Regions from separate parts of the Homo sapiens genome. Here regions 2, 3, 4, 5 and 6 are each linked to region 1. The links come from fine-mapping of genetic effects on gene expression. A gene starts in region 1. Each other region holds a variant in brackets. All regions are shown on one strand. Distances are between the middles of the regions.

Region 1 (5,086 bases):
ATTTCACGAGTGAATAAAGCCAGCCTCAAAAAAGTTAACTGATCTGCCCCAGGTGGAGGACCTGAAAGTAGAACCCAGGTTCTTGGACTATAATACTACCACTTCCTCACCTTGCGAATCCTACCTTCAGAAAGATGACCCTGTGGAGGCTGCCCGGTCACTTGCTCAGGTGCTTGGTCAGCAGAAATGGGCTTTAGCATACTTGAGAATAGTTGACATCAGGCATCACATCTAAAATTGCCATCTAAATTTGGAAAGCAGCTTTTATGCCCTCTGCTGCCTGGATAATGTAGCCTGCAGGGCACAAAGACCATGTTTTATTTATCATGAGCCCAAGTACTGTGTTTTATTTAGCGTTATACCTGTCCCTCTCAGCTTTATATAGCGCTTTTAAATATTTGCTCCTTCAACATTTGTGCAGATTCATTCACTCATCTAATTTCATAACCCTGATAAAGTTTTGAATATAATCTAGGGCAGCAGTAAAACAAAAAACTTCAAATTTAAGGAGTGAAAGAGTATGGGGGCAAAGGGTATCAGAGAATAGCCTTTTGAATTAAGGTATTTACTTTAAAAAATGTATGAACCTCAAGATGCTTCTGTGCTCTGAAATTTCTACCAGATGGTAATAACATGGCCGGGTGCAGTGGCTCATGCCTGTAATCCCAGCACTCTGCAAGGCCAAGGCAGGAGAATCGCTCGAGCTCAGGAGTTTGAGACCAGCCTAGGCAACATAGTGAGACACTGTCTCTATTTAAAAATAATAAATTAAAAATAATTTTTAAAAATACCAACAAGACAAAGTGTGTCTAAATGTACTTTCCAGGAATGTTTCAACTGACCCTTAAAATAATCCTTAAGAAAAGTAAGGCAACTGTATTATAACCCCTAATGCATCACTGAGGAAAGAGTACCTTAGAAAAGTTAAGTGACTTGTTCAAGATAATCAGATATACTGGATTTCAAGGGGATCCTAACTTTAAATCTCTTGTTTGTTCTATTACGCCTTTGCCTCACCTAGATAAGCTTTCTTTACCAAAATAGTAAAGGCGCAATAAAAGATGAGAAGCTGAAGTGCTATCAACAAATAAGAAAAAAGTGATGACTAGAGAGGGGTAGTTGTACTTGGTTGGAGAGTACAAGTATGGCTCAAAAGTATTCCTATAGAAATCCCTTTAAATGTTGCCTTTTGCTAGGGTGTGGGTAAGGACACTCACAGATTGTTGGTAGGAGTGCAAAACAGCATATCCTTTCCAGAGGGAAATTGAGCAATTCACATTAAAAAAAAAAAAACCCTTATGTGCATACTCTGCCCAATAATTCTATCATCTAGGAATGTACACTTAGAAAGTAATCATGGGCCGGGCGCGGTGGCTCACACCTGTAATCCCAGCACTTTGCGAGGCCGAGGCGGGCAGATCGCTGGAGGTCAGGAGTTTGAGACCAGCCTGGCAAATATGGTGAAACCCCATCTCTACTAAAAATACAAAAATTAGCCGGGCATGGTGGCACACGCCTGTAGTCCCAGCTACTCGGGAGGCTGACACAGGGGAATCACTTGAACCCAGGAGGTGGAGGTTGCAGTGAGCCGAGATCGTGCCACTACACTCCAGCCTGGGCGACAGAGTGAGATTCGAAAGTAATCATAGATATGCGGACTTTTACATTTACCCAACAATGTATTTTAATAGGGAAGAACTGAGAATGACCAATGAAATAAATTATAATATTACAGCCATATAATGGCATGCTATCTAGTCAGAAAAAGATAATTACAAAAGAGAATTCACTTTAGAAAAACTCATGTATTAAGCTCTGCATAGAAAAAGACTGGAGGTGTATAACCACATTCACAATGGTTACTTGGAATGGGGAAACCATATTCACCATGGTTACTTGGAACTTGGAATAGTGAAACAACGTATCTTCATTGTGATTTCTATCTTAGAAATGTGTATAAATGGCTAAATGTTCCTATATATAAAAATGTTTCTAATAAGACGTTTTAAAGGTTTCTTGGGGGTGACTGAAACAGCTGTGATTTCAAAATAAAATTTTAGTAGCCATTTAAAAAAAACATTAAAAATAAAACATTGCTATACCATTACCATTAAAATACCAATGAAAAATAAAGTCCTCGTTATGAATCTGCAGCAAAACCTTTCTTTTCAAATTCTGCTCTGTCGTTTGGACCTGTTCACATTCAGAAAAATGCTAAAAAGGCTGCCTGGCGAGGAGCCTAAAGAGGCCTTCCTGATTTCTACCTGCAGTTTGTAATTTGTTCCAGGAAAAAAAAAAAAAAAAAAAAAGGCAATCACCTAATAGGTAGTTCGAAAAGCACCTGAGTAGGAAAATATTTACGGGGTAGGTTTCTCTCCCATTTCTTTCCCTCGAGACCTACCAACAGGACAGTCCTGACAGCGACTGGCCCAGTTTCCCAATACAACCCAGAGAAGCACAGGAGATGCGCCAATTTTCAGGAGACGCTTCTAAAAAGACAAGTTTTACTTTACAATGCAGGATAATGAGCAGCCTTCACTACTCATTCTCGACGTTAACAGAGGAAGATGCCGCTGCGCGGCAGGAGCGCCTCACCAGGACAAAGCGGGGTACGGGGGGGTCCTCGGTTCAGGCCCCGCAGGCGACGCGTCCAGGGCCGCCTCGAGGACAAGGGCACCGTCCCCGGACACCGCCTTCCCGGCCCCCGCCCTCTTAACAGATGCAGGGAACCGCGGGGACCGCAACCTGCCCGACGACGGCGGAGGATCAGGGTCGCGGCAGCAGGTGCCCGGGTCGCCGTGCCTGTCGAGGGACCTCAGGGGCGCCGGGCAGCTGTCCCCTGGAAACCCGCGCCGGGTCGCCGCGCCCAAGGGAAGGCGCTGACCGAGGGACCTACGGGGCGCAGAGGAGCTGTCCCAACAGAACCCGAGTCGGACCGCCGCATCCTCCCCGCTGCCCCATCCGCCACCCCGAGAACCGCCCCTCCTGGGTGGCGGACACGCCCTCCCTGCGGGCCCAGGCCTCCTCGCCCCGCCTCCCCCCGAGCCGCTCACCCGGCCGGGAAGCCCCCGCCGCCGCCGCCGCCGCCGCCGCCGCCGCCGCCGCCGCCGCCGCCGCCGGCCCCTCGGGCCTCGCCCCTCACTCTGCCGCCGCCTCCCACAGCAGCGACACCCCAGCCACCTCTGCCGGGCCGCGGGACCCGGAACCACTTCCTTCCGGAACCGCCTCGCCCCGCCCCCACCCCGGCCCCGCCCACTGCTCGCGGCCTCGCACTGGGCCCGTTCTCCAGCCGACCCCTATCCTCTACTCTCCCGGCGAGGGTGCCCCGCCCGGGCTTCTCGGACCAGAGCGCTGCGCCCCCTGCCGGCCGTTCCCACTGCGGCCGCTCTGTCCAGGGCGCCTGCGCCCTCTGCCACCCGCCCGCCGGGTCCGGCTAGAGCGCCTGCGCCCTCTGCCGCCCTCTCGCCGGAAAGGAGGGGACCTAATGGGCGTTCCAGGTCCAGGGATCCTGGGGGTTAAGGCCCAGGGATTGGAGGTCACCCCTCAGTCATGGGCAGAACTTGATCCCGTGGGCCTTCCAGCTTTGTGCAGATCTCTAACCATTCACCTACCCTCTATCCATTTCCCACTCCTCAAATTAAGCATATTCCCGGAAAACAAAGCCTCCCCTCTGGACTTCCCAAATGGTCGGATGGTACCAACATCTATCCGTCATCCAATTCAAAAGATTGCCTCATCTCTGTCTACTCGCTTGGTTTCTCCCCTCCCACACTCCATGCACCAGCCTCAAAGGTAGTGTGTCTTCTTCACTCTTGAAGCTTTCCGCTTGACACTGATATTCTTTCTTCCCCTTGTGAAATAGCTCTTTCAGGCTCTGTGCCATCTGGTAGTAACACCTTTTGCCCTCCCTTGTCACTGTCACCTACTGACTGTCTGGCATTAGTTTTCCTCTCCATCTGATTTACTGCCATCCTCCCAATGAATCCAACATCCACAACCCAGCCTGGTTTCCTTCAGTTCCTCAATCCGAATGACCTTTACTTCTACTTTGTTCACCCGTAGTCTAGAAAATCTAGATATTCATCACTTGATACTGCTCCATCTCTAAAACCTTAAATGTTGAAATCCCACTACCCAACTTAAACCCATAGCCTTTGACTACAACCACTTTTTTATTTTTACTTATTTATTTATTTTGAGACAGAATCTCTGTCACCCATGCTGGAGTGCAGTGGTGTGATCTCGGTTCACTGCAACCTCTGCCTCCCGGGTTCAAGTGATTCTCCTGCCTCAGCCTCCTGAGTAGCTGGGATTACAGGCTGCGCCACCATGCCCGGCTAATTTTTTTTTTTTTTTTAGTAGAGACAGGGTTTCCCCATGTCGGCCAGGCTGGTCTCGAACTCCTGACCTCAGGTGATCCTCCCGCCTCAGCCTCCCAGAGTGCTGAGATTACAGGCGTGAGCCACAGCGCACGGCCTATTTATTTATTTAGAGATAGAGTCTGGCTCTTGTCACCCAGGCTGGAGTGCAGTGGTGCGATCTCGGCTCACTGCAACCTCTGCCTCCCAGGTTCAAGTGATCCTCCTGCCTCAGCCTCCTGAGTAGCTGGGATTACAGGTGTGCGCCACCATGCCCGGCTAATTTTTGTATTTTTAGTAGAGACGGGGTTTCACCATGTTGGCCAGGCTGGTCTCAAACTCCTGATCTCAAGTGATCCGCCTGTCTCAGCCTCTCAAAGTGCTGGGATGACAGGCATGAGCCACCGCGTCCCGGCCTTTTTTTGTTGTTTTTTTTTTTAAGAGTCAGGGGTCTCACTTGGTCGTGGTCCTGGCTGGAGTACAGTGGCATAATCATAGCTCACTGTAACCTCAAACTCCTGGGCTCAAGTGACACTCCTGCCTCAGCCTCTAGAGTAGCTGTTGCAACAGACGTGCACCACCATGCCCAGCTAATTAAAAAAAAAATTTTTTTTTGTAGAGACAGGGTTTCGCCATGTTGCCCAGGCTGTTCTGGAACTTCTAGGCTCAAGTGATCCTGCTGCCTCGGCCTCCCTAAGTGTTGGGATTACAGGCAGGAGCCACTGTGC
Region 2 (5,091 bases), 74 kb before region 1:
TAAATAAGCCAGTTATTCTCAAACTCAAGTATGTGCCAGAATCCCCTGGAGGACTTGTTAAATCACAGATTGCTTGGCCCCACCCCCAGGGTTTCTGATTCAGGAGGTCTGGGGTGGGGCCAAGAATCTGCATTTTTAACAAGTTCTCAGGTGATGCTGATGTTGCTGGTCTGGGACCACACTTTGAGAACCACTGTATTAAGGTCAAGGAAAAAAAAGATTGTGGAAAAACTTAAGGTTGGTCACTAGCGTTTTTCCCCATATTATAATTTTAAGACATGACGTGACATGACACCTGGCCATGAATGATGAGACGGTTAGTTCTTAAGTCTTTATCCCACTTTACCTCCTCCATGTCTGAATTTGTCAATGTACATTAATTTTTCTTTGTCAAGATTTATAACATTTACATACTATTCTACATCTATGATTCCTCAGTTCTTAAATGTTCATTCTGTATTTTAATGGACTCAGAGCTCATAATCATCCTATTTGACGGAACTTTGTTGGGGAACCTGGTATCCCCTCTCTTCTAGGTTCCCATTAAATGTCCAGAACCAGAACTCACTAGACACAGTCAAAGGTGTCTCTGACTTCTGCAGGATTTGGCTTTCCCAGGCTGCTCTGAGACCTGGGAAATGCCTAGTCCTGGTGAATCTTACCCCTTCTGCTGAGGTCCTGAGATGGAAGCAAAGACTTCGTTGTCCCAAGAGTTTTCCTTGACTCTCCTCCACGTGGCCTGGTCACCTCGTCAGTGCCTTTGTCCATACTGGGGCCCACTGTTACCAATATTTTTGTCATCTCCATTGTTTTACTCAGTGCTACTTCTGGGGATGGGCGAGGGATGAAGTCATACCACACCTTGTTGCATCAGCTTCTTCTTCCTTCCTTGCTTGGTTGTTCCTGGTGAATTTGTGCCTGGTGGTTACTGAATTTGCTGGGTAATAAAGACAATAAGAGTTTCTCATCCAGCTTTACTTTTCTTGCTTCTGCCTGGAAGTATCCCCGTCTTTTTTTTAAAAAAAAAACTATTCAAAAATGTAGGATTTATTAGGTAAAATGTGGTACATAGTATACATCTACATAAATTGTTACACATAAATGTAGCGAGTTTTTTTCCAATAGAAAAAAATGAAAATGTATCATCTAAAATATTTATAATAGTGTTCTCTGTGATAAGACTATGGGCAATTCTTCAAATTGAAATTTATGTTGAAGTAACTCTAGATTCACATGCAGCTATAAAAGAAATAATACAGAGAGATCCCGCGTACAATTTACCCAGTTTCCCCCAATGCATCAATTTTTAAAACCAGTAAAACCACCAACAGAATAGTGCCTTCTGAGGTTGGTGAAACCAATAGGAAAGAAACATGACGAGGGGATGCTGAATCAGAAATGTCAACTTTCCTCTCAACCTTTTGTATATATGTCCACTAAAGTACTTACTCTACATTGTGATTCTTTGTTTTTGTGAATCTCTTCTTCAGCAGTGCATGAGCTTCCTCACAGCAGGGACTGTGTCTTATTATCTTTGTCTTCCCAGTACCAGCGAAGGGCCTAGCACGTAGTGGAGGAAGGTGAGGAGGCAATGGTAGGGGACTTATCAAAAAAAAGAAAAAAAAAAAAAACTTCTCTTCTCAAGTCTTATGCATTCAAGAAGTCAAATTCTTTCCAGTCAATAAAAAATGCTATGGATAACCTTTTGTTCAATCTCCATATGAAAATTACACATGTAGTTCCTAATAAACATATTCTATTATTCCCTATTTATTCATTCATTATTCAACTAATATTTAATGAACTCTTACCACACGTCAAATAGGAAGCTGGGTGCTGGGGATACTATGGTGGACAAGACAGACACGGTCCCTGTCCTTATTTTATACTCTAAATTATAAAGTTGGTTTTTCCTTTTAGGCTTTAGATCTTATACACACAATGTTTTCTGCACAGGTATTTTGCAGATAACACGCTTTGCATATTGAGACAGTGCCAAAAGAATATCCAAATAGGGAATCAGTTGTGGAATGAATAATAGTAAATCAGCCATCTTACCTTTATGTGTTACAATAAATAAAAAGCGAGCTATAAAGGCGATTTACCAAGTTATATTTCTGTTTAATGTCCATTTTTCCTATTAGACTCTTCGTACCATAAAGGCAGGGTCCATGTGTCTTGTCTTCTTGTTCATTGCTGTAATTTTAGTACAGTATCTGTGCAATACATAGTTGTCAATCAAATGATTAAATATTCAAAGCTCATTACTGTCCCCTAGAATATGGGAGTAAATGAAATCAATTATTTTAAAATTTAAGACAGATTTTATAAGTACCTAACACAATATAAAGTTGCCATACTACCTGTGTGCATGCATTTCTTTCTTACCATAAGTGGAATGCTAAATATGTTTGGAAAACCTGACCTATAGAGATTGTACACAGTACAAGACAGGCCATCTACCCAAATTTATTACCTGCTTAGCAATGAATCAAGTGCACTTGCCCCCCTTATCATGAACTCACTTAAGGAAAAGGCTGCCCTCTCTTTTAAAGATATGGACAAGAAAACTGAATGTACTAAGATTTTTCACATCCAGTCATGAAAAACCAAGTTCTTATCAACCTTCACATTTTAATTTTGAAAGCTCTGTCTTTGTAAGCACAGAACAGTGCTTTAAACACTGTTTAAACAGAGGTGCTATCCAAGGCTATAAGTCTCAAACAAAATTAAAATAATGCTCTCACAAACTGGCAAGTAACTTATTTAAGCAGAAAGAGCAACAACATTTTATT[T/C]TATTACAAATAAACATTTCACAAAAATGTAATTGGGAATGTATATGTACTGTTAAGCAGAACACAGAAAACATAAAGAAATAAGGTATTGGGGCCTAAAAATTTCATTTAAAAATCCCATCCATTTGCTCTTACACATAGTAGGTATGCAATACATATCAACTGAACTAAAAGTAAACACTCTATAAGATGTGCTTGCAAAATGTGTAATGCTGTAGTAGTAAAGTACAATTTTCAAATATGAGATTTTGTTTGTCAGATTTTTAAAAAGCCTTTAAAAATATGATATGCACAAGCTTGCCCTGAGGGAAAAATAAGATGGACTATAGATTACAAAATCTTTACATATTTTCCACAATAGCATTTTGAAATTGGAAAAGAGCAAATAGTTGTGGAAAAAAACTGAATGAACATATTACTAAAAATTCAGTGCACTCACAACTACCTGATGGAATATTTGAAGCACCTTGTCTCTTGCCTTCTTATAATATGAAATGTATGAATTATATAGGCCTTGATCTTCAGAAACTTAAGAAAACTTCGAGTTATAAGCCAAAATGTCATCAGAAAAAGAAAAATCTGGTATAAAATTTTCTACCATAAGGCCACTGTTTAAAGTTCTTTCATGTAAAGACACTATACAATTCAGACACTTGTTTTTGTTTTTATTATGTAAGCAAAACTTTCAACATATAAACGTCTGAATATTACTTGGTGAAGTTCTCTCTATGAAACCATGCTCAGAGAAAAATGCATCAACAAATAATGCCCTTCAAGTGATTCTTTTGAGACTTTTTGCAAAGGAAACTGTAGTTAATACAACTTTTAAATTGAATACTGTAATTTAAAAGCAATTGTTAGGTGTAAAAAAGTTGCAGCATTCCACTACTAAAAAATAAAGTTATTTTATCAAGAAGTTACAGTATTAGTGCCTTAGTGTCACTTCTAACTCCTGACAAAAAGAGAGAGATGCTCCCAAACATCCTCCTGTAGCGTCATTTCCATTTGTACGATTTCAGATTAGATTCCTGTGGCAACATCTGTATATTCCTATTGAGAGAAAACAAGAGAAATAAAGACTTCAAACAAAGTGTCAAACATCTGAGCTAGTTTTGTTTACACTGCAATTTTCAAAGTATTTTCGTTTATACAGTGTTACTTGCACCCCGAGATTCCCACGAAGGCATGTGGAACCCCAAAGGCGCAAAGTAACAACAGAACACATCAAAGCAATATCGCATGATAAATCAATAGGACAAAGAAAACATGTGGTGCTAGATAACATTGATATTAGTAAATTGATGAAAACAGTCTTCTGCTATTTGGGTGAGTTTCAGTGAAGGCATCCCTGGCATAAAATCAAGACTCTTAAACCTTTGGCTCTCAAGTACGGAGCCTGACACTACACACGCACACCTCAAATTAGTATTTTATCTTTTCCACCCTATATCTCTAATTCTAAAACTACATGGGCTCTTTTAACTGACTGATAACTGCAGAGAAAGTTATTAGAGGGGGAAATGCCTTCTTACTTTTGGATGGTTGACTACAGTATAAAAAGGTGTAAGGCTTCAATAAATACAGGAAGAAGAATTTACAAGAACAATGAGACTATGATTAGAGAATAATGAACGTGGATTCTATACTGTGATACTATGCACAATATTCAATTACTAACCACAAACTGGACATAAGACCATGCAAGTAATAACGGAGCAAACATGGTAAAATGGCACATTTTTTAGGGACATTAAAAAATAAAAATTTATTAATATACATATCCTTACCTTTCACTAGGATCTTACACTATTAAAACTGAAAGAAATGTAAAAGTTGATTTATTTTTTGGCATTTATATTAGTATGGAAATGTTTAATTCCAAACAAAAACAGTGCTGATAGAAAATTCTTATTCTTCTATTTTGGTTAATGAAATCTTCAAAATACATGCACGTATATATTTGTCAACATCATTCCTTTAAATAGAGGTAGACTTCATTGTATCCTAGTTCTTTACTCATTATACAATATAAAAATCATATAAATTTATCTTCAAATAAAATGTTACCTACTTACAACTTTAAAAGGAAATTCTAACTACAATAATTCTAAAATAAGATTCAGTTGAAGTATCTTGTTAAATGTGTGATTATTTTGAGTTACATTCACCCTTGACATAGCTTCTTTCATAACCTATCTCCACTTGATCCCTCCACCCTTCCAATGATTTAAAAGCCCCCCCAACCCGGCCTTTTTTTTTTTTTTTTTTTTTTTTTTTTGAGATGGAGTCTCCGTTG
Region 3 (5,091 bases), 210 kb after region 1:
AAGGACAGTTATATCCAAAGAGGTCTATTTTGAGGGAAGAAGAAAGGAAGCAAGAGGGAGAGAGAGAACATACTGTGGTATAGCTGAAAGAGCAAATGTTTTCTGGAGTTTAGACAGAAAGATATGAATTCAGATCTGTGTAATCTTTTTTTTGAAAAAAACTTAAGCATCACAAGATCTGTACAATCACGAGCAAGATACTTATTTAAATTCTTTGAGACTCAGTTACCTTTCGGCTACACAATGGGGATAACACTACTGTAGCTTTGAGGAGCATATGACCATTTGAGATAAGGTATGTACCTAGAGCCTGGTATGTATGAGATATTCAATTAAATAGTAGCTATTGTTATTATATGCAAAGTAGCACCATGAATATGATTAAGGGATAAAACAATTTACTACCAGCAATGAGTACTGCAGGATTCAGAGAAGGGCAAGATCAGTCTTACTTGCATAGGAAGGCTAGAAGAAAGATGTAGGGTCAGGGAGCAAGCTTTAAGACTTTTGGAGTGGCATTTAGATGGGTAGGAAGGATAGGCCCTAGAAAACAAGAGTCCAAGCATGGAGTACCCAGTGTAAGCAAAGATGTGAAGGCATGAATGACAAACAGGAAGGAACCAAATGAGATTTACTACTGCGCCAAGGCGAAATGGGGAGGATCCAGATTCTTGAGAAGTTGGAATGCCAAGATGAATTTATATTTGACCCTGTGAGCAAAGCTCTTTTTCAGCAACCAAATATTTCCTGAGCAAAGTGTATGTGCAATGCACTAGGGATATACATACAAATAAGATAATCTTCAAGAAGCTCATGATCTAGTGGGAAGGACAGACAGGTAAATAAATGATTATAATACATTCTAAGTACTCTGAATGGTTATATGAAACATGAAAATGGAAAGAATAGGACAATCTTTGGAGGAGGGAGAAAGTTGAGTTGGTTTTATTTTCAGTTTAGGGTGACTGCAGATATTTAAAATATAGAAATAAGACCTCTGGGGAAAATAAACAAAGCAGCTAAAAAATGCCCTATTTTTTCCATTCTACCAGTTTTCTATCCCCAACTGGGAGATTTTCATACCACTGACTGAAAATGGGCAAATCAGAAATAGGAATCAATTGCTCTTGATGTCTACGCAGCTCTTTTAACTGACCTGTCCAGTTAGTATATCAAATTCAATAGCAATCTCTGATTTCATTACCTTGCCCGATCGCTACAACTCTGGTATTTTCCTTGTTATATCTGATATGCCCCCTTTTTTTTGAGATAGGATATCGCTGTCGCCCTGGCTGGAGTGCAGTGGTGTGACCTCGGCTCGCTGCAACCTCCCTCTCCAGGGTTCAAGTTATTCTTCTGCCTCAGCTTCCCGAGCAGCTGGGATTACAGGCTTGTGCTACCATACCTGGCTAATTTTTGTATTTGTGGTAGAGACGGGGTTTCACCATGTTGGCCAGGCTGGTCTCTAACTCCTGACCTCAGGTGATCCGCCTGCCTTGGCCTCCCCAAGTGCTGGGATTACAGGCACGGGCCACCACGCCCAGCCTGATATGCCCTTTGTACTTTTTATGTGAGTGAAGTTCATCACCAATACCTGCTGATATTTCTATTCTAGTCTAGCCTAAATCTGTCCTTTTCTCATTATTACCATACAATTTTGGATTAGTTCCTATCACCTTAAAGGTGGATTCCAAAGTCCTACCTCTTTCAATAAGTATACAAGGCTTATCACTTAAAAATACCTCGTCTGCTCAGTAAGCATCAAAAATATCCACTAATAAATGCACTGTATATCCCTCTTGTCTTATTTTACCACAATGAAAAGAACAATTATTTGGGAGTCAAGAACTACAGTTTAGTGGCTATACTAATAACTAGATGAACTCATAACTACCTTGGTCAAATCATTTCATTGCTCAGGGATTTCCTGTTTCCTCCTCTATAAAATGAAGGATTAGAACCAAGATGATTTTTTTGTGAGACAGTTTTCTCTTCAACATTTCCTTATATGTAACATTGATGAGACCTTGTTTAACTGAAAATGAGCAGTGAGAGTCCTTCTCTAAAGAATTCCTTCATTTTGTCTGAGGTAGGCCTGTGTCATAATTCTAATCTCGTTTCTTTTGCTTATGTAAAGACCTAGTGACAATTCTAAATCATCCTACCATGAGGAATTTTAATTAGTATATACTAATTCAGAAGAAGGCATGTTTTATATAGGCCAACTTCTAATCCCAACATAGAATTGGTTAATACTGACTCATGCTGGCAAAGCAACTAGATTCCTCTGAAATATTTTTTCTTCTAGAGTAGTTATTAGATTTAAGCCCTACTTGACTGAACCTGAGAATGAAGAAATGTTGTTTATGTTCCTAGGACTATGCATTAAGAAACCTTTTTAAGCAGTTTACAGAACCTTTTAGACAAACAGACCACTTTAATAGGACAGAAGTCCCCATTAACTTTATCTAATGTTATTGACTTGTATTTGACCCCATTTATCGTATTAACAGGAACTTTAAAATGGGAAGAGACTTCTGGTTAAACATGGATATTTTACTCTCTACATTCTTCCAAAACCCCATGGAAATGACAATAATG[G/A]AAAAACTGCATAAACTCACAAGGACAGGAAGCAATAGTAGAAGATGTGCAAGTGGTAACTAACAAAGCAGACCAGAGAAAGCTAAAAATCTAAGCCTAAGGAAAAGAAGCCAATGAAAAATAAGCAAATTCTTGTCATTGAAATCTTTCCAATCAGCTTTCTAGCACCCGACTCTTAAAGAAAAGATAGCAAAAGACCCCCAGGCATTTGGAGAAAGGCTCTAAACATGAAAAACATCAAAATAAACAGAAAAATGGAATAAAGGGAAACAGAGACAATGTGAGGAACAGAAGATAACTTAAACACCACACAACACAACTCAATCTTGTAATTTATGTCCACTGAGGGAGCAAAGATAATATGGCACCTCACCCTTTTTAAAGCTTCTTGTTCTTGTTTAAAAAGGGTGGTGGGGTGGAGGAAGGAACAAGTATCCGCAACAAATAAACTACAAGGAAAAGATAAGAAATGAAGAAAGAGTTCATAGATGAAAAGACTTAAAAACATTATCAACCAATTGCAAAGTTGAGACCTTATATGTATGGATCCTAATTTAAACAGACTGCATAAAGAAACATAAATTTTAATAGTAGGGACAACTAGCAATTTGAACAAAGACTGGATATCTTTATGCTCATTTTTAAGGTATGATAATACAGTTGAATTATCTCTTTTAGGAGTCTATCTTTTTTTTGAGATGGAGTCTTGCCCCGTCGCCCAGGCTGGAGTGCACTGATGTAATCTCGACTCACTGCAACCTCCGCCTCCTGGGTTCAAACGATTCTCCTGTCTCAGGCTCCTGAGTAGCTGAGATTACAGGTGCCCGCCACCACACCCAGCTAATTTTTGTATTTTTAGTAGAGACGGGGTTTCACCATGTTGGCCAGGCTGGTCTCAAACTCCTGACCTCATGATCCACCCGCCTCGGCCTCCCAAAGTGCTGGGATTACAGGCGTGAGCCACCGTACCCAGCCAGGAGTCTATCTTTTAGAGATATATACTAAAATATTTATGAAAGAAATTCTATAGTGTCTGGGATTTCATTCAAAATATCAAGAGAAGAAGAAGGAGAACACTGATGAAAAAAGGTTGGCCATGAGTTGATAAATGTTGAAGCAGGGAGAAGGGTACAGGGGGTTCACTATATTCTTCTGTCTCTTTCTTAAATGTTTGACACTTTCCATAATTGAAAAATGTTTTAATGAAATAATCAGAGAACAAGAAAATCTAGGAAATGAAAAGCGATGGCAGAAACAAAAAGGTCAATAGAAGAGTTGGAAGATGGTTGAAGAAATTTCACAGAAAATAGAAAAAATGGAAAATAAAAGATGGAAAAATAAAGAAAATTAAGGAACAATTCAGGAGGTTTAACTAACATATTCCAAAGAGCAGCACTTACAAATGTAGAATAAATGACAAAAACTTTCCCAAGACTGAAGAAAGGAGTTTTTAGGTTGAAAGAGACCACACCTCATATATCATATGATATAGTTTTAGAAACCCACACTCAAGAATACCACTATATAAATTTCAGAACACCAGGAATAAAGAGTAGATTCTAAAGACTCCCAAAGAGGAAAAGCAGCTTACACACAAAGGACTGGGAGTGAGACCAGCAATTAACTTCATCACTGTAACACAGGAAACTAGAAGACAATGGAAGCAATACCTTCAAATATCTGGTAGAAAATTCTTTCTGACCTAGAATTTTATACTCAGCCAAATTATAAACTAAGTGACAGGCGGTAGAATAAAGCCATTTCCAGACATGGAGGGTCACAAAAAATTTAGTATCCATTTACTCATTCTGAGGTAGCTATGAGAAGATGAGTTCCATCAAAACTAAAAAGTAAACTGAGAAAAAGGTAGGCACAGAATTTATGAAAAGAGACTGAATACAGAAAAGAAGTGAAGGAAATGTGACTGTAGTATACTATTTCGTTCAGCTAGGAACAATTCTTATAAAGCTGTAACAATGAAAACATTATTGGGAAGATGTGAAAAGGGAAACTGTGAGTGGGTGGCAGCATGAGAGAACTGAATCTTAGTCTTCCATGTTAGAAAGGCAATAGATTATGTCTCCAAATGAAAACAAACAATTGCAATATAAAAGTGTTGAATATAAATGTAAATGGCAGCAGCTAAAGAGATGAAAGTCATTGTCTCTGGGGTTCAAGAATTAGGATAGGCAGAAGAGTGGGCAAAGCATAGCTATGTTATATGATAAGACTCTACAGATATTCTTTTGATAAACATAAAAATTTAAGAACACATTCACAATTATTCAGCAGTTTAAAATTCCAATAAGTCAAATATTTTCACTTTTCTATCATCTCTTTTATAGCTAATATCTATACAATTTTACATACTTGTAGCTCAATTTGTTCTAATTTTCACTACATTCATTTTTGTAATTTTATTTAAGATACTTTATTTTAATAATATCCTATTAAGTGGTAAACCATAATTTTATAACGTTTCTCTATTTT
Region 4 (5,091 bases), 280 kb after region 1:
ACTGGAAAAGATACTTTTTTTAAAAAATTCTTTTTTAGTGACTTGTATTTAAGACCAGCCCGTAGCCAGACCTCAACTGGAAGTGTCTTTGCAGAACACTATGGAATTAAATGGAACTCTATTCTTTGACCACCAGCTGAATCCCAAATCTCCATGTTTGGAAACTCTGCAGCTTTAATCACAAAAATTGTGTGAGTGAGGCACTATCAAATCAGGTCCATTGCTGGAAAAACTGCTCATGGATTAATAATGCCATATTTGTAAGTAAAGTACATTTTCATTAAGCAACAGATCAATTATATTTCAGTAGCTTATTTTCAAGTCATGTTCTTGGTAACTAATAAAATAAGAATAAAAACCTGGGAAGGGGTTAAACATTAAGGAATTCCTTTTTTAAATAAGAAAACTGAATTGAAATAACTTACAATTGCCTAGAAAATAAGAGATGAATTCTATAGATTAAATGGCTTTATTAAAAATTTTAAGACTAATAAGACTGTATGCAAATAGTGAGTTCACGTTTAAGCAAGAATAAGCCAATTCGAAGTAGTATTGGCAGTTTTGGACACTTTACCAAAAGTTTTGAACACTTTTTATAATGATGGTGATGATGATAATAATAGCTAGACACTTACTGAGTACTTACTGTGGGTCAGGCATTGATGTAAGTGTTTCACATGTAATTTAATCATCATTGCAATGCTAAGAGTACTAAATATATATTAATAGCAGCTAACAGGGCTGGGTGCAGTGGCTCACTCCTGTAATTCTAGCAGTTAGGGAGGCCGAGGCGGGAGGATCACCTGCGGTCAGGAGTTCGAGACCAGCCTGGCCAACATGGAGAAACCCTGTCTCTACTAAAAATACAAAAATTAGCCGGGTGTGGTGGCATGCGCCTGTAGTCCCAGCTACTCGGGAGGCTGAGGCAGGAGAATCAGTTGAACCCAGGAGGTGAATGTTGCAGTGAGCTGAGATTGTGCCACTGCACTCCAGCGTGGGCAACAGAATGAGACTCTGTCTCAAAAACAAAAAACAAAACAAAACAAAACAAAAAACAAACAAAAAAAAGTAGCTAACAGCTGTTGAGTACTTGCAAACTGTTAAATGATTTACATATGTTATCTCATTTTATTTAAACAATAGGTACTGTTAGCAAAGGTTAGTGTTTCATTCTGATAAAGAATGAGTATTTCTTACTATAATGAGTTCTCCCAAAGATTTCAGGAAAATGCTTAGGAAAATGTACCACAAAATACAATTAAATAAGTATTTAAACGACTATGTTTATTAAATATATTCATATGCTGTATTGCTCTGTTAGTCTTTATTTTATTTTGCCTTGGTGGACACTGTAAGATTCTATGAAATTTCATTTTGAAAAAAAAAGAAAATAAGTTTCAGCTTCTCCAAAGAGCAATATAAAGCTTTTGAAAGGGTGTTAAAATAGATAATTTTCAAATGAAAATTTTTGTTTTCATAGTTTACCATGGGTCTTTAGACCACTGTTATGGGTTGAATTATGATTCTCCCAAAAAAGATACGTTGAAGGTCTAATCCTCAGTACTTCAGAATGTGACCTTATTTGGAAATAGGAGTGTTGCAGATGTAATTAGTTAAAATGAGGTCATACTTGAGTAGGGTGGGCCCCTAATCCATTAGGACTGGTCTCCTTATAAGAAGATAGCCATGTGAAGACAGAGACACAGGGAGAATGCCAGGTAATGACAGAAGATTGGAATGATGCATCTACAAGCCAATGAATGCCACAGATTGCTGACAAACCACCAGAAGCTAGGAAGTGGCAAGGAGCTAGGAAGAGGCAAGGAAGGATTCCACACAGAGTCTCTGAGAGAACATGGCCCTGACAACATCTTGATTTTAGACTTCTAGCCTCTAGAACTCTGAGACAATAAATTTCTGTTGTTTTCAGCCACCCAGTTTATGGTACTTTGTTATGGCAGCCCTTGGAAACTAATACAACGACTGGGAAGATTTTTGCTTATACACTTGCAAAGCATTTTTCACTTCTGAAAACACTACATCCACTATTAAGGATTTCCTAAAATAGTAGGCATATCTCTGTAAGCAATAGGGAAAAAAATAACAACAGAGAGGAATTTGGAATGTGTTTACAAATGGATTAGGAATAGAGCCTAGAATTTAATTTCTTCAGGTTAAACATTTAATGCTAACAAAATAATCCCTGATTCTTCTTTATAGATCTCCAGAATCCAGACAACTCTATATATGAGTAATTTCCCCCTAATATGTACTCACTATTATTTATTAGACTGAAGTGAAAAAAATTATACTGTAGCTTCTTAAATCTTTCCTTCTGTCTGGGAAGTCCATGTTTGGGCAGACTTCGTTTTTCATTTAGGAGCTAACTCCTCTATACTTC[T/C]CTTCCTGTATTTCTCAAGGAGTTTTGTGGCATCACCATTTATTTAATTGACCATATCAGAAATATAGGGTTCATTATGTCATCCTACCCTCCTCCATCTCCCCTTCTTCTCGCACCTCCCACATTATTTTACTAGATTTTTGGATTCTCCTTTCTAATCTGGATTCTGTCAAACTCTCTCTCGCTCCACTACCCCCACCCCAGTTTGGGCCCTCCCCATCTTTGGCCTGAATTATGACAGCTCCCTTCAGAGCCTTCCTGACTTTCACCCATTCTCTACACAAGGGATAAAGGGTGCATCCTAAAATGAAAATGTTATCTTGTTCATCCTATGTGCTTAAAACCCACAGTGGCTTTCCATAGCTCAGGATAAAATCCTGGCACCTTTGCCTAGATGCAAGATGCCTACCTTTCTTTCTTTTTTGCCAGCCATTAATGGCAATATAAAAAAAATTAAGAATTTATCATGCTTTTTCTTATACAAACTGTATTTCAGGTGAACCGTATAGCATTAGTTGATGAAAGAATGGTCTTTACAGAAGAATTCTGGCTTATAAATGTAGAAGGAATGCTGGACTTAGAAAAGCACCACTTTGAGACCATCGACACTATGAAGAAACTGCATCAAGTAATGGGCAAAATAACCAGCTAGCATCATAATGTCAGGATCAAATTCACACATAACAATATTAACCTTAAATGTAAATGGGCCGAATGCCCCAATTAAAAGGCACAGACTGGCAAATTAGATAGAGTCAAGACCCACTGGTGTGCTGCATTCAGGAGACCCATCTCACGTGCAAAGACACACATAGGCTCAAAATAAAGGGATGGAGGAAGATTTACCAAGCAAATGGAAAGCAAAAAAAAAAAAAAAAAAAAAAGCAGGGGTTGCAATCCTAGTCTGTGATAAAATAGACTTCAAACCAACAAAGATCAAAAAAGACAAAGAAGGGCATTACATAATGGTAAAGGGATCAATTCAACAAGAAGAGCTAACTATCTTAAATATATATGCACTCAATATAGGAGAACCCAGATTCATAAAGCAAGTTCTTAGAGACGTACAAAGAGACTTAGACTCCCACACAATAATAGTGCAAGATTTTATCACCCCACTCTCAATATTAGACAGATCAATGAGACAGAAAATTAACAAGGATATTCAGGACTTGAACTCAGCTCTGAACCAAGCAGACCTAACAGACGTCTGCAGAACTCTCCACCCCAAATCAACAGAATAGACATTCTTCTGAGCACCACATAGAACTTATTCTAAAATCGACCACATAATTGGAAGTAAAACAGTCCTCAGCAAATGCAAAATAACGGAAGTCATGACAAACAGCCTCTCAGACCACAGTGCAATCAAATTAGAACTCAGGATTAAGAAACTCACTCAAAACTGCACAACTACATGGAAACTGAACAACCTGCTCCTGAATGACTACTGGGTACATAACAAAATTAAGGCAGAAATAAATAAGTTCTTTGAAACCAATGAGAACAAAGACACAACGTACCAGAATCTCTGGGACACAGCTAAAGGAGTATTTAGAGGGAAATTTGTAACACTAAATGCCCACAGGAGAAAGCAGGAAAGATCTAAAATTGACACCCTTACATCACAATTAAAAGAACTAGAGAAGCAAGAGCAAACACATTCAAAAGCTAGCAGAAGATAAGAAATAACTAAGATCAGAGCAGAACTGAAGGAGATACAGACATGAAAAACCCTTCAAAAAATCCATGAATCCAAGAGCTGGTTTTTTGAAAAGATTAACAAAACTGATAGACCACTAGCCAGATTAATAAAGAAGAAACAAGAGAAGATTCAAATAGACACAATAAAAAATGATAAATGGGAGATTATCACTGATCCCACAGAAATACAAACTACCATCAGAGAATAGTATAAACACCTCTATGCAAATAAACTAGAAAATCTAGAAGAAATGGATAAATTCCTGGACACATACACCCTCCCAAGACTAAACCAGGAATAAGTCAAATCCCTGAATAGACCAATAACAAGTTCTGAAATTGAGGCAGTAATTAATAGCCTACCAACCAAAGAAAGTCCAGGACCAGACGGATTCACAGCCGAATGCTACCAGAGGTACAAAGAGGAGCTGGTACCATTCCTTCTGAAACTATTCCAAACAACACAAAAAGAGGGACTCCTCCCTTTTATGAAGCCAGCATCATCCTGATACCAAAACTTGGCAGAGACACAACAAAAAAAGAAAATTTCAGGGCAATAACCCTGATGAACATTGATGTGAAAATCCTCAATAATATACTTGCAAACCAAATGCAGCAGCACATTAAAAAGCTTATCCACCATGATCAAGTCAGCTTTATCCCCGGGATGCAAGGCTGGTTCAACATACGCAAGTCAATAAACATAATCCATCACATAAACAGAACCAATGACAGAAAACACATGATTATCTCAATAGATGCAGAAAAGGCCTTCGACAAAATTCAACACCGCTTCATGCTAAAAACACTCAATAAATTAGGTATTGATTGAACATATCTCAAAATACTGAGAGCTATTTATGACAAACCCACAGCAAATATCATACTGAATGGGCAAAAGCTGTAAGCATTCCCTTTGAAAACTGGCACAAGACAAGGATGCCCTCTCTCACCACTCCTATTCAACATAGTATTGGAAGTTCTGG
Region 5 (5,080 bases), 84 kb before region 1:
ATGTGTGTGCATGCAAAGTGGGTATATATGTGCCAAAAGTACACAAGGATTTTTTTCTCCAGAGACAGGGTCTCACTGTGTCGCCCAAGCTGGAGTGGTATGATCACGGTTCACTGCAGCCTTGACCTCCTGGGTTCAAGTGATCCTCCCACCTCAGCCTTCTGAATAGCTGGGACCACAGGTGCGCACCACCATGCCCAGCTAATTTTTTTTTCTAATGTTTTGTAGAGACAGGGTCTCACTATGTTGCCCAGGCTGGTCTCAAACTCCTGGACTCAAATGATCCTCCCCCTCCTCAGCCTCCCAAAGTGCTGGGATTACAGGCGTGAGCCACTGTGCCTGAACACAAGGACTAAGACCAAACTGTTAACCATGCTTACCACTGAGTAGTAGGCATACAGGTCATTTTAATGTTCTTCTTTATACTTTCCCATATTTTCTAGGATTTCTTTCCCGTATCAAGCATGCATTACTCATAACCAGAAAATAATTACTTCCATTTCGTGTAAAGAAGTAACTTTTTAAAATGAGCATCTGAGACCTTAGGGGCTAACTGCAGCAAGCAGCTGTCACCAAAATTTACACATGTAGGAGTTAGAACGGCTAAGAAAAAATATGTCAACTATCTTTATTAACTAACGCTCTCCAGAATGTGGTTTAGGTATACATGTTCTAGAAGTATGTTGGAGCCATTGCTATAAATCTACATATCGTGTTCTCTTTAGATTCTTGTTTTGAACTAAGGTCTATGAGGCCAGAACATCTTGGCGGGCGCTGCATGTCATCTGGTTTCTAGGCAGTATTTTAGAAAGGCAGCTCAATTCCCCTTCTTGCCCAATAGGTGGGGCAAGAAAGCTTTAGAAGAGTCCCCACCTGCTAAAACATGAACAGGAAGAGACCAAATTGCAGAAAAACCAGTTAGAGCGGTTCAGAAGTCATCCCCATCCAGTTGGGTGGGATGTATGCTAAAATTTTCCTAGGGTGAAAACTGTTTCCAGAGAGTTTTCTAGAGAATACCAAGTTGAGAGTCTATAAAATCTGTTTCAATACCTGACAATCACACTGTAACCAGGACTTTTTTCTAGCGTTTGAAATTAAAATAGCTCAGGTTGAAATGCTGAGATATCATTTTTCATGGGTCAGATTGGCAAAATTCAAAAGCTTGTCAATACACTGCTGGCCAGACTGTGGGGTAAGTGGCACTCTCATCCACTGCTGGGGGAAATGCACCCTGGTCCAACTCCCATGGAGAAGGGCTGGCAATATCTAACAACATTCCATATACATTTTACCCTTCGGCCCAGCAATCTCACTTTTTTTTTTTTTTTTTTGGAATTTACTCTGAAGATTCACTTCCAACAATATGAAAATAAATATGCACAAGGTTATTGATTACAGCATGATTTGTAATTGCAAAATGTCAAACTACCTAAATGTCCAAATATAAGAGTGTGGTTGAATAAGTTATGATAACAGCTACACAGTGGAGTACTATGCAGCTATAAGGAAGAATGAGGCCAGGCATGGTGGCTCACGCCCATAATCCCAGCACTTTGGAAGGCCAAGGCAGGCAGATCACCTGAGGTCAAGAGTTTGAGACCAGCCTGGCTAACATGGTGAAACCCTCTCTCTACTAAAAATACAAAATTAGCTGGGTGTGGTGGCAGGCGCCTGTAATCCTAGCTACTTGGGAGGCCCAGGCAGGAGAATCGCTTGAACCCAGGAGGTGGAGGTTGCAGTGAGCCAAGATTGTGCCACTGCACTCCAGCCTGGGCGACAGAGCAAGACTCCGTGTCAAAAAAAAAAGACAATCGCACAAACTGGTATGGAACAATTTCCAAGATTTCTTAAGTGAAAAAAGCAAAGTGCAAAAGAGAATATAGAAGATGCTGCTTTCTGTATATGGAAAAAAACGGGGAGGGGGGGCGGAATAAGAAAACATACATATATCTGCTTGTCTATACCAAAAAATACACAGGAATGAGAAACCCGAAGTTGGTCACCTACAAGGAGTGGGAAGGAATAGTATTGAAGGAATACAGGAGGAAGTGACACTTCCCTGAGCATACCTTTTGGTATAGTTTGATTTGAGGAAGTATGTTAATGTTCTACATATTGAAAAAAATCAAATCAAATAAACATGGATGGTGGGGAGAGCTACCACTGAAAACAAGTTGGAAAAAACAACTGTATTTCTAATGAAGAACATGACC[A/G]TATCACAGGGGTAGGAGTGGAGGAGACTAATGCAAGTAATTTATGTACACAGTATTTGTCCATATACCTTCTGTCTTTGGGGCATGGCACTGAAGAACCGCAAACAAATCCTGAACTATTTTTAGTAGGTTTGTTTCCTGCTGTGGTATAAGTGAAGCAATTCCGAAACTACTTTAGATGTATTATGGGATTGAGCAAATGATTAAATCGTTTGATGTTGGGAGCCAGGGTTCTCACTGTGGAGGAAGGGACATACAAATATCAAACAGGAGAAGGCAAGGAAGAATCCTATGGAGATGGATGGTAGGTGCCAGTGTGACCTCATCATTTCTAAAATATGTATATATATGCATGTATGTGTGTGTGTGTGTTTCCTAGATATGGCTGCTGAAAATGCTTATAAGCAAAGACACTCCAGTAGCAATGGGCACTAGGGCCCAAGTCTTGGACTCTAATACCATCCCCCACTAAAAGGAACCAGGACTCCTTAGAAAAATGAATGATTTCAAGCCTGGGGCAGGGAATGTCCAAGATAAAGACCAAAACATTTTGTTATGCATCAGAGCAAAGAAGTGCTAAAAAGAAATGATAGGTGCATATCACAATTTGCAATTGCAAAAATATGGAACCAGCTCAAATGCCCATCAGTCAACGAGTGGATGAAGAAAATGTGGTACACACACACACACACACACACACACACACACACACACAATGGAATACTACTGAGTCATAAAAAGGAATGAAATAACGAAAAAGGAATGAAATAATGGCATTCGTAGCAACCTGGATGGAATTGGAGACTTTTTTTTTTTGAGACAGAGTCTCACTCTGTCACCCAGGCTGGAGTGCAGTGGTGTGATCTCACCTCACTGCAACCTCCACCTTCTGGGTTCCAGTGATCCTCCTGCCTCAGCTTCCCAAGTAGCTGGGATTACAGGCATGAGCCACCACGCCCAGCTAATTTTTTTTTTTTTTTTTTGTATTTTTAGTAGAGACGGTGTTTCTCCATGTTGTCCAGGATGGTCTCGAACTCCTGGCCTCAGGTGATCCACCCACCTCAGCCTCCCAAAGTGCTGGGATTACAGGCATGAGCCACTGCACCTGGCTGGAGACTATTACTCTAAGTGAAGTAACTCAGGAATGGAAAACCAATATTGTATGTTCTTACTCATGCGTGGGAGCTAAGCTATGAGGATGCAAAGGCATAAGAATGATACAATGGACTTTGGGGACTTGAGGCAAAGGGTGGGGGGTGGCAAGGGATACTGTAGATTGGTTACAGTGTACACTGCTTGGTGATGGGTGCGCCAAAATCTCAGAAATCACCACTAAAGAACTTATTCACGTAACCAAACACCACCTGTTTCCCAAAAACCTACTGAAATAAAAAAGATAAAGTCAAAAAAGGAATGATAGGTCCATATCAAGAGGACACAGCAATCAGCTTAAAGGGGCTCCCACTGGCCAAAGCTAGGATCATTTGAGCTCCCAAATAATCAAGGACAATAATGAATTATAAGCCACTGAAAAAGTAGAAATGAATCCATATCAATAATAAATAGACAAATAAGCAGGGAAGAAGGGAGGAGTCTTGCTTACAGCAGAATGCCAATGCCAGCTGGTAAGTGTAGAGGGAGCACTGGAGTTAGAAAATCATCATTTTGCCACCATAGCCATGAAGATTGGTTTGGACCAAAATCATCAACATGCCTGGGCATGATGGCTCGCACCTGTAATCTCAGCACTTTGGGAGGCCAAGGTAGGAGGATTGCTTGAGGTCAGGAGTTCAAGACCAGCCTGGACAACATAAGGAGACCCCCCCACCGCCCCCCACCATCTCTTAAAAAAAAAAAAAGCCAGGTGCAGTGGCATGCACCTGTGGTCCCAACTACTCGGGAGGCTGATGTGGGAAGATCGTTTGAGCCCAGGAGGTTGAGATTGCAGTCAGCCATGATTGTGCCACTGCACTCCAGCCTGGGCAACAGACGGAGACTCTGTCTCAAAAAAAAAAAAAAAAAAGAAAAGAAAAGAAAAGAAAAGAAAGAAAGAATGGAGGCCCTCTTTAAAAACCAGAATGGTCTTCATTTTGGGTTTGTCTGATGATTCTTTATGATTATATTCAAGTGCTGCATTCCCAGCCAACATACCATATTAGTGATGCTGTGTTATCTATTGTTAGCAGTGGAGAATCCATATCCGTGTCACACGGCACCAAAATATCTTCCGGCAATGAACCTGTACGGGTCTGCAGCAACCTCAATTACTGCCTCCTCAGAAGAAAAAATTGGACTGAGAGGCATAAGGCAGAAGGAGAGATGGAGGCAAGTTTTAGAGCAGGAATGAAAGTTTATTTAAAAAGTTTAGAGCAGGAATGAAATGAAGTATACTTGGAAGAAAGCCAAGCAGTCGACCTGAAAAGCAAGTGCACGGTTTGACCTTTTGACTTGGGGTTTTATAGGTTGGCATACTTCTGGGGTCTTGCGTTACTCCTCCCAACTCCTGAGATCTTATCGGGAAGCTGCTGATCACCATTATTTTAGAGAGACAGTTAACCACCGCCTGACTATCACCTGATGGTTGCCTGACACTCCTGGTATGTGGGTCGGGGGAGCCCTCTCCTGCCCTGCTCATACCAGACTAGCTACCCACTGTAACAGTATCACACTGATGTCCATCTGCTCCTCCTTGGTGATGTTAATTTCCATCCCCTAGTCAAGGAGTTGTCTGTTCTTTCCACTGTATAATTGCTGTTTTTCCTTCCTGCCTTGCAATAAATAAGCGATCTGTGAGAAGACACTTTTACACATTGAAATGTCCTGCTCATCAAAATTGCCTCATATATTTAGTATCTATTGATGACTCT
Region 6 (5,091 bases), 31 kb before region 1:
AAATGAACATGTCTTCCAAGTGTTGTAATGGAAAACTATACCTTATTCCAAGAATGCTGCACTTGCTTAAAACTACTCAGAAATGCTTTGTCTGCAGGCACCTCATGCATCAATGAAAAAATTTTCTCATTATTTTATATTTATATCTCATTTTGGACCCAAAATGGCACTAATCAGCTTGTACCTATCTCATTCCTCTGTACTTAACTCTAAATTGCTTTTGGCTCTTCTCAAAAATCAAGTTCACTGTCTAAAGAATTGACATTTGCAACTGCTGGGGTTCTTAATGGCTACATTACAGGCTCAGAAGATAAATCTGAAAGAGAGCCCTGAAGTATGTTTTAAATAACAGGACACCACTGGAATAAATAGCTCATCATAAAGCAGAAAGCAAACAGACAGATGTGTCTGGGGGTATGAGTGCACGCATGCACATATGTACTTATTTATTTAAGTCATGTAACAGCCATATATCCAAACTGCTGCAGGGTTATGAGGGGCTTACAGATATTCTTTAAAAATTTTAGCTCCTCTAATAAAATGGTTTTGAGTGTCTATTTATAACTTATCAGAGGAAAGGCTTCCATCTAACTTTCCGTGCTCCCTGCTCTCAGACCAGCGTTGCCAGGGTCAACTCCCTGCCAAGGCAGAAACACAGAAAAGTAATCATGCAGCAGGTTGACCGCACTGCTGTGGTTTCGTTGATTCATTAGAAGGACTTTCATTAGAAAGAAGGCCCATTTCCCTTCTTTCCTCCTAATTTGCTCCAAGCTTCCCACTGTGTATGTGATAACTAGCTAAGAGACATTTGCTGGCAAATGTTAGAACACCCCGTAACGACCTCCACTAACAAAGAATTACAAATGCTCTCTGTTTAAGGGGGTCTAAAGTTACAAAATTCCTGTGCCATAGCAAAAGAAAAAATAGCCTTTAAAAACATTTTATAGTAGGAAAATAGTATATTTAAATAGAACTATACAAATGGTCCATCCACAAGAGGAAATCAGTTGATAAGGTTTTTTTCTGGCAGCCTCAGTTTATCCCAAGAGGAAATAAGCTGATAAAGATGTTCAGTTTTCCAATGAGTAATTATTAACATTTACTTATAATTTCTTACAAATTACTGCTGAAACTCTTGTCCCCACTCCATGCTCAATCCTCAATCCATAGGAGTTACATACTTTGAAGCTATTATATATTTAATTCCTAAAATCTTAGTGTTTAAACTTGTTATCCATTAAAATTTATCCTAGAGTTCCTCTACTACAAGATCTTTAATAAAAAATTTAAATTATCATTTTCTAGAAAATATACATTTAACATAGTATAACCTCCAAATTTTAGTCTTTTAAAAACAATTATGATACTTTTGGTACAAGAAAAACCCTCTTTAGACTTGAGAATGCAAAATGTTCTAAATATTTATATTTGTAAATGTAATCATCTTTTGGTTCACATTTTACTTTTTACTATTTCCTGTGGCATGGATTGATTAACAAGTTAATAATTTCAGGAAATACCCCCAAAGCAAGTAGTTAAGCTAAAAAGATCAAATGTTCTCATTTGAGATGCATTTTAGACAATTTAAAAAATTAAAATACAGCCAAAAACCTCTATTCTAATACTATTTCTGGTATCAGTTTCATTAAATCTTCCAAGATCCTTTGTTCCCTCGACTGCACTTTCCCCGTTTATTTTTCTGTTTAAGGATATTTCCACTGATGTTCTCCCTGAGCGTTGTGGGTAATAACCAAGAAAATGTAAAAAGCTACATTAAACCTTAATTTCCTGTTGCACACACTTAGGACTCATCAAAGAAATGAACTGCATGGCAAAACGGCAACAAAAAACCCAACAACAACCAAAACCAACAGATTCCCCTGCCCTCTGGAAGCTTCTATCAAAATCCGTACGACACATATAAAGTTTTCCTTTCTGTCTTCTTCCAACTAATAACTAACATTTCATACAGCATCCTACAGTTCATATAAAGCACTTTCCCAATTACAGTCACATGCAGCATAACGGCGTTTCCATTAATGACCACTTAAACGATGGTGGTACTGTATTTCTAGTGTACCTTTTCTATGTTTAGATATGTTTAGATACACGAATAGTTACTGATGTGTTACAATTGCCTACAGTATTCAGTACAGTAACATGCTGTGCAGGTTTGTAGCCTAGAAGCAATAGGCTCTACCATATAGCCTAGGTGTGTAGTAGGTTACATCATCTAGGTTTGTGTAAATACACTCTATGATCTTCAGACAGTGGCAAAACTGCCTAACAAGACATTTCTCAGAACGTATCCCCATCATTGCACAATGCATGACTGTATATAATTTGCTCCTGTCTTCCCAAGAACCAATTTAGAAACTGTGGAGTTGATGGAAAAAGTTCAGGGAGATTGCTCCTCCCCTAATTCCTCACTTTTTGCACAAAAGTCCTCTAGTGGGCCTCACCAGCCCCAACATGCATTCAGTCTACTTCATAGACAGCAATCCTCTGGCGGCCAGAACTGGGCTGCCAGCCCTCTCCTATCAG[C/T]TGATAATGTCAAATCAGGCTGGCAGTCGCAGCATTCTTACCTTTCAGTCTCCTTTCCCTCTATTCCTTTTCACTGACTGCTCAAAACCACACAGGTCAAAGTTCATGTGTATGTTTTTCTGCCATTGTTAACCTGTAAATATAAAATTTCTTTTGCCTCCATGTGTCTGCATACACCAGCCTTTGAAGCCTAGCTCACATGTCAACTACATGATGCCTCTCTTCAATCTCCCAGCTTGGTACCACCCATCTTCTGCTGAGTCACACATGCACTCCAATAAACCAAAGGAGGAGGAACCTAATCGTATGCAGCTCTACAGTCCCAGGGCACCCTAACAGACTGTCTCACACAGGGTAGGCCCTCAAAAAATACCCACTGAATGAATAAATAATGAATCAAAAATGACTTGGTCAATTTGAAATGAGTGTTTCAGCTAGAGAGATGATAAGGTCAAGTGCGGTGGCTCACGCCTGTAATCCCAGCTACTCAAGAGGCTGAACACTTTCGGAGGCAGAGGCAGGAGGATTGCTTGAGCTCAGGAGTTCAAGACCAGCCTGGGTAACACAGCAAGACCTCATCTCGACTAAAAATAAAAAAAAAAAAATAGCCAGGCATGGTGGCGTGTGCCTATAGTCCCAGCTACTCGAGAGGCTAAGGTGGGAGGATCGCTAGAGCCCAGGACGTCAAGGCTGCAGTGAGCCGTGATCACACCACTGCATCCAGCTTGGGTGACAGAGCAAGACTCTGCCGAGAGAGAGAAAAGACTTCAACATTTTATTTTTATTTTCTTTTTGAGACAGGGTCTGGCTCTGTCACCCAGGCTGGAGGGCAGTGGCGTGATCTCGGCTCACTGCAACCTCTGCCTCCTGAAGCCAACCTCCCACTTCGGCCTCCTGATTAGTTGGGACTATAAGTGTGCACCACTACACCTGGCTAATTTTTGTATTTTTTGTAAAGATGGAGTTTCACTATGTTTCCCAGGCTAGTCTCAAACTCCTGAGCTCAAGGGATCTGCCTGCCTCAGCCTCCCAAAGTGCTGGGATTACAGGCGTGGGCCACCATGCCCAGCCAGACTTCAACATTTTAATTGAGGCCAATTTAATTTTTTTTAACTTTCTTGGCTTTTATTTTTATTTTTTGCTTAACTTAGACCAATTTGAATTTAATATTTTAGTATAAAATTTCTAATATATACTAAAGTTCAGAGATGAACATTATGAGCCTCCATGTGTCTGTCAACTCAGCTTCAATGGTCACCAACACATGGCCAATCCAAGCAGACTCAAAGAGCCAGGAGGAACTGCAGGTTAATTTGGTCCCAAAAGGTTACAGCCAAGTGACCTGCCCAATGTCACAAAGCTGATCAGTGGTCCATAGGAAGACAAAAACATATGCACTCTAACTGCCAACAGAATCCCTACACAAGGCCCCCTAAGAGACACCAAGAGAAGCTAGGGTCAAAAATAGGAATGAAAGGGAACCTTCTCTCAATTAATTTTTGATTTTAAAATGCATATGAGAAATTAAAGTAGGGGAGAACTTTAGTTTTCTATGCTATATAACAGCAAGGTGGCAGGTTTGGGTATAAAAAATATCCCCACCTGCATCTTATTTTGCCTCCAGCGGAACAGTGTCCATCATAGGTACACTTATGTGACTAGGTTCCCTTCCTTCAATCTCAGTTATGGCTTTTCACATTGTTCCCTGCCTGCGTGATACCCATTTCCTCAGAGTGTCAGGGTCCCAATGTCCTCTGGGGCCCATCCCCCACCTCATCCCCTTTCAAACTAGGAAAAGAGCTGATAGGGGTAGAGACACCCCTCTATGTCTCTTCAGTGGGAAATAAAGGATTAGACACAAATGTGGCCAATGTACTCAGTCCACCATCAACTCTGATAGCCATGAATGCTGATGGACAACCTTCCCCATGTCCCAGGTGTCTCGTATCAGCTTCCCAGGAGATCAAAGGAGTCTCTGATCCATCAGCAGCAGCTTATTCTGCTCCAGATATTAGTACCACCTCCTCCCTCCTCCTCTTCCTTCCTGGCCTAGCCAAGGGTCAAGCCCTCACTCACTCAAGCCCAACATTAAACTAACACCTGCATTTGTCTGCCCCAAAACATCCAGATGCATATATACAACAGTTCATGTTTTGCATATGTAACAACCTTAGTAGAAATTTTCATACTGTGATTCCCTAACTTACATTCTGAAACATATAATTATGACTCAGATGTAATTTCTGATAATGAAGTTTCTGACAGAGTGGATCATTAGAATACAGTCTTTCTTAACAGAAGCATTAACTATGCAGTGAACATTCAAGCAAGTGTTTACCTACTGCTGTTCTAGATACAAACTAGAATCTAAAAAAATCACAGTGATAACCTTATGTTTTCAACCATACTGACAATTGGAAGAACAAATATCAATTCTCAACCAAAGCTAAGTAAATAAATGCACAAAATTAGCCATCTTAGCATTTCCAAAAAAAAGCAGATAAACTCTCTAGATGTTAACCAATAAATAAACTTCTCTCTGCACTC

Alleles and levels. Alleles are on the strand shown, and positions count from the first base shown. SD is a standard deviation of normalised expression in the study named. Not every link is listed here.
As copies of G replace A in region 5, the expression in sigmoid colon of the gene that starts at base 3,207 in region 1 goes down (moderate effect, 0.57 SD a copy in GTEx).

What was found.
Region 2: its variant is fine-mapped to the expression of BCLAF3 in whole blood (TOPMed, PIP above 0.99).
Region 3: its variant is fine-mapped to the expression of BCLAF3 in tibial artery (GTEx, PIP 0.93).
Region 4: its variant is fine-mapped to the expression of BCLAF3 in whole blood (TOPMed, PIP 0.94).
Region 5: its variant is fine-mapped to the expression of BCLAF3 in sigmoid colon (GTEx, PIP 0.94).
Region 6: its variant is fine-mapped to the expression of BCLAF3 in minor salivary gland (GTEx, PIP above 0.99).

What each region holds. Positions count from the first base shown.
Region 1 is chrX:19,987,855-19,992,940 of GRCh38, forward strand. BCLAF3 (BCLAF1 and THRAP3 family member 3) reads right to left here and starts at 3,207. Exons shown (of 12, transcript NM_001367774.2): 1 at 3,054-3,207. LOC729609 (a long non-coding RNA gene) reads right to left here and starts at 1,925. Exons shown (of 2, transcript NR_024440.1): 1 at 1,832-1,925. RefSeq lists silencers at 2,590-2,959, 3,030-3,079, 3,120-3,549.
Region 2 is chrX:19,913,490-19,918,580 of GRCh38, forward strand. BCLAF3 (BCLAF1 and THRAP3 family member 3) reads right to left here. Exons shown (of 12, transcript NM_001367774.2): 12 at 1-3,845. The coding sequence ends at 3,816. Among named protein-coding and RNA genes, the nearest start is that of SH3KBP1, 28 kb to the left of the region's middle. The variant T/C (reference allele first, on the strand shown) is at 2,796.
Region 3 is chrX:20,195,594-20,200,684 of GRCh38, forward strand. The region is part of intron 4 of RPS6KA3 (ribosomal protein S6 kinase A3); the gene reads right to left. Among named protein-coding and RNA genes, the nearest start is that of EIF1AX, 56 kb to the left of the region's middle. The variant G/A (reference allele first, on the strand shown) is at 2,602.
Region 4 is chrX:20,272,608-20,277,698 of GRCh38, forward strand. No RefSeq gene overlaps it. Among named protein-coding and RNA genes, the nearest start is that of RPS6KA3, 8.2 kb to the left of the region's middle. The variant T/C (reference allele first, on the strand shown) is at 2,402.
Region 5 is chrX:19,904,131-19,909,210 of GRCh38, forward strand. No RefSeq gene overlaps it. Among named protein-coding and RNA genes, the nearest start is that of SH3KBP1, 19 kb to the left of the region's middle. The variant A/G (reference allele first, on the strand shown) is at 2,214.
Region 6 is chrX:19,956,481-19,961,571 of GRCh38, forward strand. All of the region lies in intron 4 of BCLAF3 (BCLAF1 and THRAP3 family member 3), which reads right to left. Among named protein-coding and RNA genes, the nearest start is that of BCLAF3, 32 kb to the right of the region's middle. The variant C/T (reference allele first, on the strand shown) is at 2,545.